Linked DNA regions of Homo sapiens. The protein of the gene in region 2 purifies or fractionates together with the protein of the main gene of each other region. This does not show direct contact. Each region holds a gene or a part of one and is shown on either strand. Other genes may lie near its edges.

The links. The genes of interacting proteins can lie anywhere in the genome.
Region 1: the proteins of ARID3A (region 2) and PLS3 purify together in Homo sapiens (affinity purification with mass spectrometry, with the first as the bait; one large-scale study listed by BioGRID). This does not show direct contact.

Annotation. Positions count from the first base shown.
Region 1 is NC_000023.11:115,644,674-115,648,173, reverse strand, and holds part of PLS3 (plastin-3), read right to left. Parts: intron 3,154-3,500; coding exon 3,075-3,153; intron 2,103-3,074; coding exon 1,988-2,102; intron 1,773-1,987; coding exon 1,639-1,772; intron 625-1,638; coding exon 501-624; intron 282-500; coding exon 157-281; intron 1-156. UniProt on the Homo sapiens protein: Actin-bundling protein.
Region 2 is NC_000019.10:929,035-932,534, forward strand, and holds part of ARID3A (AT-rich interactive domain-containing protein 3A), read left to right. Parts: exon of another isoform or gene 1-111; intron 112-227; 5' UTR 228-494; coding exon 495-862; intron 863-3,383; coding exon 3,384-3,500. UniProt on the Homo sapiens protein: Transcription factor which may be involved in the control of cell cycle progression by the RB1/E2F1 pathway and in B-cell differentiation.

The DNA.
Region 1 (3,500 bases), on a different chromosome or scaffold from region 2:
AGTATTATTGCCCCCAGTTTATTGATGAGGAATCTGAGGCTCCAAGAGGTTTCTCCCAAGGTGACACCACTCTTAAATGGCAGAACCTGAATTAGAATTCAGATCTGTCCAGCTACAAAGCTGCGTTCTTTTCATACTATTAGCAGTCTCCCTTACTTGGCATTATTGTGCTTGTCATCTTCTGTTAGATTGCCACTCTTCACAAGGTCATAGTTTATACAGCCTGGCTGGATGGCATCAATTAAATCCACAACTGCCAAACTGGAGCTGATCGTCTTGTCCTAGTGTGAAAGGAGAACAAATCTGAGAATTTTGATACATACAAATTAACATGTGCTTACTTATATCAAGTGCCAAAAACAAAGCCCAGTGAATTCGTAAAGAATTGTGCCATTAGCCCAACACTAATTCTCACTCACAAAGAAGCCAAAAGTTGCCTTCCCAAATGATAGATGTTATCCAGCAAACATAATATTTAATAGTCAAATATGGATTCTGACCTTAAAACTCTGAATGGAAGTTGATTTTCCAGCTTCACTCAACGTTCTGTTCACCCAGTTCACAATGATGTCGTCATTGGCTTTCTGACCATCTCCAAGATCTTCCAGGACATTGAGGGTATATCTAAGAGAGGCAGCAGAAGAAAACGTCACCATCTACTTTATGAGGAAAAATGCAAACATCAGAAAGATGCTTTATCTTCCACTTTTTATATTTCTTAAATTTTTCTTCTTTTTTTTGAGACGGAGTCTCGCTCTGTCGCCCAGGCTGGAGTGCAGTGGCGCAATCTCCTGCTCACTGCAAGCTCCGCCTCCCGGGTTCACACCATTCTCCTGCCTCAGCTTCCTGAGTAGCTGGGACTACAGGTGCCCACCACCACGCCCGGCTAATTTTTTATATTTTTAGTAGGGACAGGGTTTCACCGTGTAGCCAGGATGGTCTTGATCTCCTGACCTCGTGATCCACCCTCCTTGGCCTCCCAAAGTGCTGGTATTACAGGCGTGAGCCACCACTCCTGGCCCCTATATTCCTTAAATTTCAAGGACTAAAGATTTCATGGAAAGAGATTCACACTATGTGAAAAAAATATTTCAAGCAGTAGTGGCTTGCTACTGATCTACTCTTTGTAGTGGTGAGAGAGGAGCAGATTGACAGTGCTTTAATGAGCAGGTCCAACAGCCCACTGTAGGCACATTTTGTACTATTCCAATAGCGGTAATGGCATAAAATAAGCTGTGCTTTGGCTGGTGCCCAGTCATAATGAATGCTTTTCAGCATTATAGTGATCTTCATCAGCATTACAGAGAGAGATCTTTATTTTCAAATGAGCATGAAGATGTTCATAATTTTGTTCTGACAATTTTTTAATTCACTGACACTAAACGAGGCCGAAATCTGTGTGTCAGGCTTCCTATTTTTTAAAAAAGGGACTAACCATAGTTCTGCTGCCTAACTTGCAAGGAAGCATCTCCCACTTAACATCCAACATATATTCATTAATTAAACTCATTTCGGAGTGTAAATATAACATATTTCAAAAGTGTAGTTATCGACATATCCACTTATTAAACACAGTAAGGACTAAATCACAGACCTGTATGATAGTAAAGACTAAACAGCTAAAATTGTGTACTATACCTTCTCATCAGCTGCCAGACTAAAGCTAAAGTCAGGGTTTGGTTCCCATCATTCAGGTCTTGCCCTCCAATGCCAACCAGGGAGAATTTAGCAGGATGCTTCCCTAATTCAACAGCATAGTTGCAGTTTTCTAGCTGCAAAGGCACAAGAGTAAATGGTTAAAGACTTCCATTTGTTTAATCTGCATACGTGTGTGTGTGTCTTGTATAATGCTAGGTATCAGCACACAAAAACAAATAAGACACAGTTTTGTCCTCAAGAAGCTCAGCGTCAAGAGTTTTAGAAACAAAAGAAATTAATCGAGAATAAAAATACTCTAACAAATATATACAGCAACTTAATTATCTACCTTTTTCATGTTGGCTCCCAGTTTCGGGTATGGAGGTTTATTAACCTTACTCCAGTCAACAGGAACTTTAATTCGTTCATATAACTGTAAGATTACCAGGGCATCTTGCAGGTCACTAATGATTTAAAAATAATGTAATCAGTGTTTTCAGGAAGCTGGGACTTGACTTTCCTTAAAAACAGTAACACTACATTGTCAAACAAGATATATAAAACCATAAATAATACCCAAGACTCATATTTTCTATCAATCTGTGCTGAAAACAGAGCTAAGACCATCCCATTCATTTATAAGTATTTATTGAGAGCTTACTGTAAGCAAGGCACTGTTCTAGAGGCTGGGCCCACAGGACAAAAATCCCTGTCCTTGCATTAGAGTCAGAGAGATAGACAATAAACAAGTACATGGATAAACAAACAATACGGGGGGTATTGGTTTGTTGACAATAAACAAACAATTTTAGGGGTGTATGTAAGTGCTATTAAGAAAAAAAGGAACTAGGGTTAGGGGTTAGAGAGTAGCAGGTGGTAGTCAGGAAATCTTTGAATCAGTGACTGGAATACAGTAAGGATACGAGCCACTATATGCGAGCAAAGAACGTTCCAGGCTGAGAGAACAATGAACCAAAGTCCCTGAGTTGTTGTGGATGGTCTACTTAAAGGATTCCCTGGTCTCTGTTTCTTTCTTTTTTACCTTTCTTTTTTTTTCCCTCTTAGAGATAGGATCTCACTTTGTTGCCCAGGCTGGAGTACAGTGGCACAACCATAGCTCACTGAAGCCTCAAACTCCTGGGCTCAAGCAATGCCCCCACCTCAACCTCCCAAACAGCTGTTTCAAAATATAAAGTATTTGCTCCCTAGGGTACTATAAAGACATTTATATATTCTATCACTTACAGTTAACGATCATGTAAAGGAATACTTAAAGCTTTTGTGTATTTGGAAAATGATGATGGAAATCACCACTTGACATTTTCCAATATAAATAATAGCTACAAATTAATATCTAGAAAATCTTTAGAGCTGTCATTATTTAACATCCATTCATGACATTCGTAACTGTTTACAATAGCAGTAGGAAGGCTTACGCATAGAGATGGTTTACGTGAGGATTGACACCAAGAGAGTTCATCCAGTTACGGAAGGTTCTTTCTTCACGAGTTTCTCCTGTTAAGAATATTCACAAAATTTACTGATTCATTAAACACTTTATGTATGTGCATATAGTGCCAATACACATATTAGATTATTTTATCTCTCTATTCAGATCTAGAATTTTTCGATAATACGAGTTTCCAAGCATTCTTCTAAGTACATACATTCTCTCTAGGTACAGGCTTATTTTTAAAATTTGAATTTATTTTAAAATTAAAGAATACAACCTTATTCTAACCAGTTAAGCAATTTAGAGGTTTATGAACTTTTTATAGTCTCCTTCTCAAATCTTTCTCCAATATTTCCTCGAATCTGCATCCCTCAAAGTAACTGATGTTATCAGTTAAGTTACTGGTTTT
Region 2 (3,500 bases):
TCTGGCCACAGCGTGTTTCTCTGTGGCCCCGTGCGGGGCGACCTTGCTACCCAGGCCCACAGTAGGCTGTATGCGAAGAGCCTGCGCCTCTGCCTCCAAGAAGGCCTCCAGGTCTGCATCCTGCATGAGATGGACATGAGAGCTGATCCCCAGGGCCTTCATGGGGAAGGAAGGAGGGGGCTTGAGGAGCTCAGGCCTGCTCTGACTGTGCCTTTTTTCCCCCTCAGGTTTCTGCAAATGCGTGAATGAGCCGGATGCCAGCCTCTGTCCCCTGGAGCCCAGCGTGAGGAAGAGGCATGCCCCATCAGCCTTCAGCTTGAGCCCGGCGGCCCCCGCCCCCGCCCCCTGCCACCCTGCACTGCCCCGGCTCCCCCGCGGCCCCCACGCTGCAGTGCGGCCGGGCCCCCTCCCCGCAGGGGCCGCCCCCGCCGCCCACCCCTAGCGCCCGTGGTGGTGGTGGTGGTGGTGGTGGTGGTGGCCCGGGCCGCAGGGCCATGAAACTACAGGCCGTGATGGAGACGCTGTTGCAGCGGCAGCAGCGGGCGCGCCAGGAGCTGGAGGCCCGGCAGCAGCTGCCCCCCGATCCCCCTGCTGCACCCCCCGGCCGGGCCCGGGCTGCCCCCGACGAGGACAGAGAGCCCGAGAGTGCCCGGATGCAGCGGGCTCAGATGGCCGCACTGGCAGCCATGCGGGCTGCAGCTGCGGGCCTGGGACACCCAGCCAGCCCCGGCGGCTCTGAGGATGGGCCCCCAGGCTCGGAGGAGGAGGACGCGGCCCGGGAGGGGACACCGGGCTCACCCGGGCGAGGCAGAGAAGGGCCAGGAGAGGAGCACTTTGAGGACATGGCCTCCGACGAGGACATGTGAGTTGGGGTCTGGGGCAGGGCCTTCTGGGGGCTGTTACTGGCTCTGAGTGTCACTCTGCTCATCTGCAGAATGGGAGTAAGGGTCAGGTCGCGGGATCTCCTTCCTGTAATTCCAGCAGTTTGAGAGGCCGACGTGGGAGGATCACGTGGGCCCAGGGGTTGGAGACCAGCCTGGGCAACATAGCAAGACCCCATCTCCGCAAAAAATTAAAAAATTAGCCAGGCATGGTGGTGCACCTGTGGTCCCAGCTACTGGGGAGGCTGAGGCAGGAGGATCCCTTGAGAACAGAAGTTGAGTTGTGATTGTGCCACTGCACTCCAGCCTGGATGACAGAGATAGACCCAGTCTCAAAAGAAAAATGGTTTTTTTAGCCGGGTGCTGTGGCTTACGCCCGTAATCCCAGCACTTTGGGAGGTCGAGGTGGGTGGATCACCTGAGGTCAGGAGCTCAAGACCAGCCCGGCCAACATGGCGAAACCCCATCTCTACTAAAAATACAAAAATTAGCCAGGCGTGGTGGCAGAAGCCTGTAAACCCAGCTACTCGGGAGGCTGAGGCAGGAGAATGGCTTGAACCTGGGAGGTGAAGATTGCAGTGAGCCAAGAATGTGGGTTTTTTTTTTTTTTTTAGACAGAGTCTTGCTCTTTTCGCCCAGGCTGGAGTGCAGTGGCGTGATCTCAGCTCACTGCAACCTCCTCCTCCCGGGTTCACACCATTCTCCTGCCTCAGCCTCCCGAGTAGTTGGGACTACAGGCGCCCGCCACCACGCCTGGCTAACTTTTTGTATTTTTAGTAGAGACGGGGTTTCACCATGTTAGCCAAGATGGTCTCGATCTCCTGACCTCATGATCTGCCTGCCTTGGCCTCCCAAAGTGCTGGGATTACAGGCGTGAGCCACCACACCCGGCCAACTTTGTTTCATCTTAGTTAACTTAAAGCAACCTAGCCACCGATGGCTACAGCAGATTCAGCGGCAGGGGCAGATAAAATCTGCAGCCGGCTGGACCTGCATAGCGTGTGGGTCCCCCCAGGGCTGGCTGAGGGCTCACTTGCTGTGGGATCCTGGCCTCCAGGAACCCGCATCTTCCTGGGAGGACCTGAGCAAGCAAAGATGCTGGGCGCAGTGGCTCACGCCTGTAATCCCAGCACTTTGGGAGGCCGAGGTGGGAGGATTGCTTGAGCCCAGGAGTTCAAGACCAGCCTGGGCAACCTAGTGAGGCCCCATTTCTACAAAAAGTACAAAAATTAGTCGGGTGTTGTGGCATGCATCTGTGGTCCCAGCTACTCGAGAGGCCGAGGCGGAAGGACTGCTTGAGCTCAGGAGGTCAAGACTGCACTGAGCTGTGATCACACCACTGCACTCCAGCCTGGGCAACAGAGAAGACCCTGTCTCAAAAAACAAAACTGGCCGGGTGCAGTGGCTCATGCCTGTAATCCCAGCTACTCAGGAGGCTGAGGAGGAGAATCGCTTGAACCTGGGAGGCAGAGGTTGCAGTGAGCCGAGATCGTGCCTTTGCACTCCAGCCTGGGCAACAAAGTGAGACTGTGTCTCAAAAAAAAAAAAAAAACAACCAAACAAAACCTAGCAGCAAAGAAGCAGGTGATATCAGGTTGTACAAACAGCTGCCAATGGCTGGGCGTGGTGGCTCACGCCTGTAATCCCAGCACTTTGGGAGGCCGAGGTGGGCGGATCACGAGGTCAGGAGATCGAGACCATCCTGGCTCACACGGTGAAACCCCGTCTCCACTAAAAATACAAAAAAATTAGCCAGGCGTGGTGGCGGGCGCCTGTAGTCCCAGCTACTTGGGAGGCTGAGGCAGGAGAATGGCATGAACCCGGGAGGCGGAGCTTGCAGTGAGCCGAGATTGCGCCGTTGCACTCCAGCCTGGACGACAGAGCGAGACTCCCTCTCAAAAAAAAGACAAAAAAAAAAAAACGGCTGCCAAGAAAGTCTAGGAGGGTGCCGTGGAGGGGCAGTGGCGAGGGTGGGGCGGATTTCAGATGGCGGTGGGAGAATTCTCCCTGTGGAGGGAAGGGGAGGTGGAGCTGGGACAGCATGCATGGTGCAGGATGCAGGAACCAGCCTGCCGTAATGATTCCCTTTTTTTTTTTCCCAAGAGAGTCTTGCTCTGTGGCCCAGGCTGGAGTGCAGTGGTGCCATCATAGCTCACTACAGCCTCCATCTCCTGGGCTCAAGGGATCCTCCCGCCTTGGCCTCCCAGAGTGCTGCCGGGATTATAGGTGTGCGCCACCGTGGCTGCCTGCGTGATGCTTTTCAAGGCCCCAAAATTCACGCTGTAGGGACGGCTTGTGCTGTTCTGGGCTAATTGGAAACAAAGTGGGCGTCACGGGTGCCCCACGCTGTGCTCATGAGCGCTCTCTGCAGTCTGAGCTGGCGGCGGCCGGCTCTTCCTATTTCCAGAGAGGGAAACTGAGGCTGGGCGGGGAGTGGGTCTTTCCTTGGGCTGGGACGAGCCAGCACCTTCTCCCCTGACTCCTGCCCTCTGCTCACCCCAGGAAGCCCAAATGGGAGGAGGAGGAGATGGAGGAAGACCTCGGGGAGGATGAGGAGGAGGAGGAGGAGGATTACGAGGATGAGGAGGAGGAGGAGGACGAGGAGGGGCTGGGCCCCCC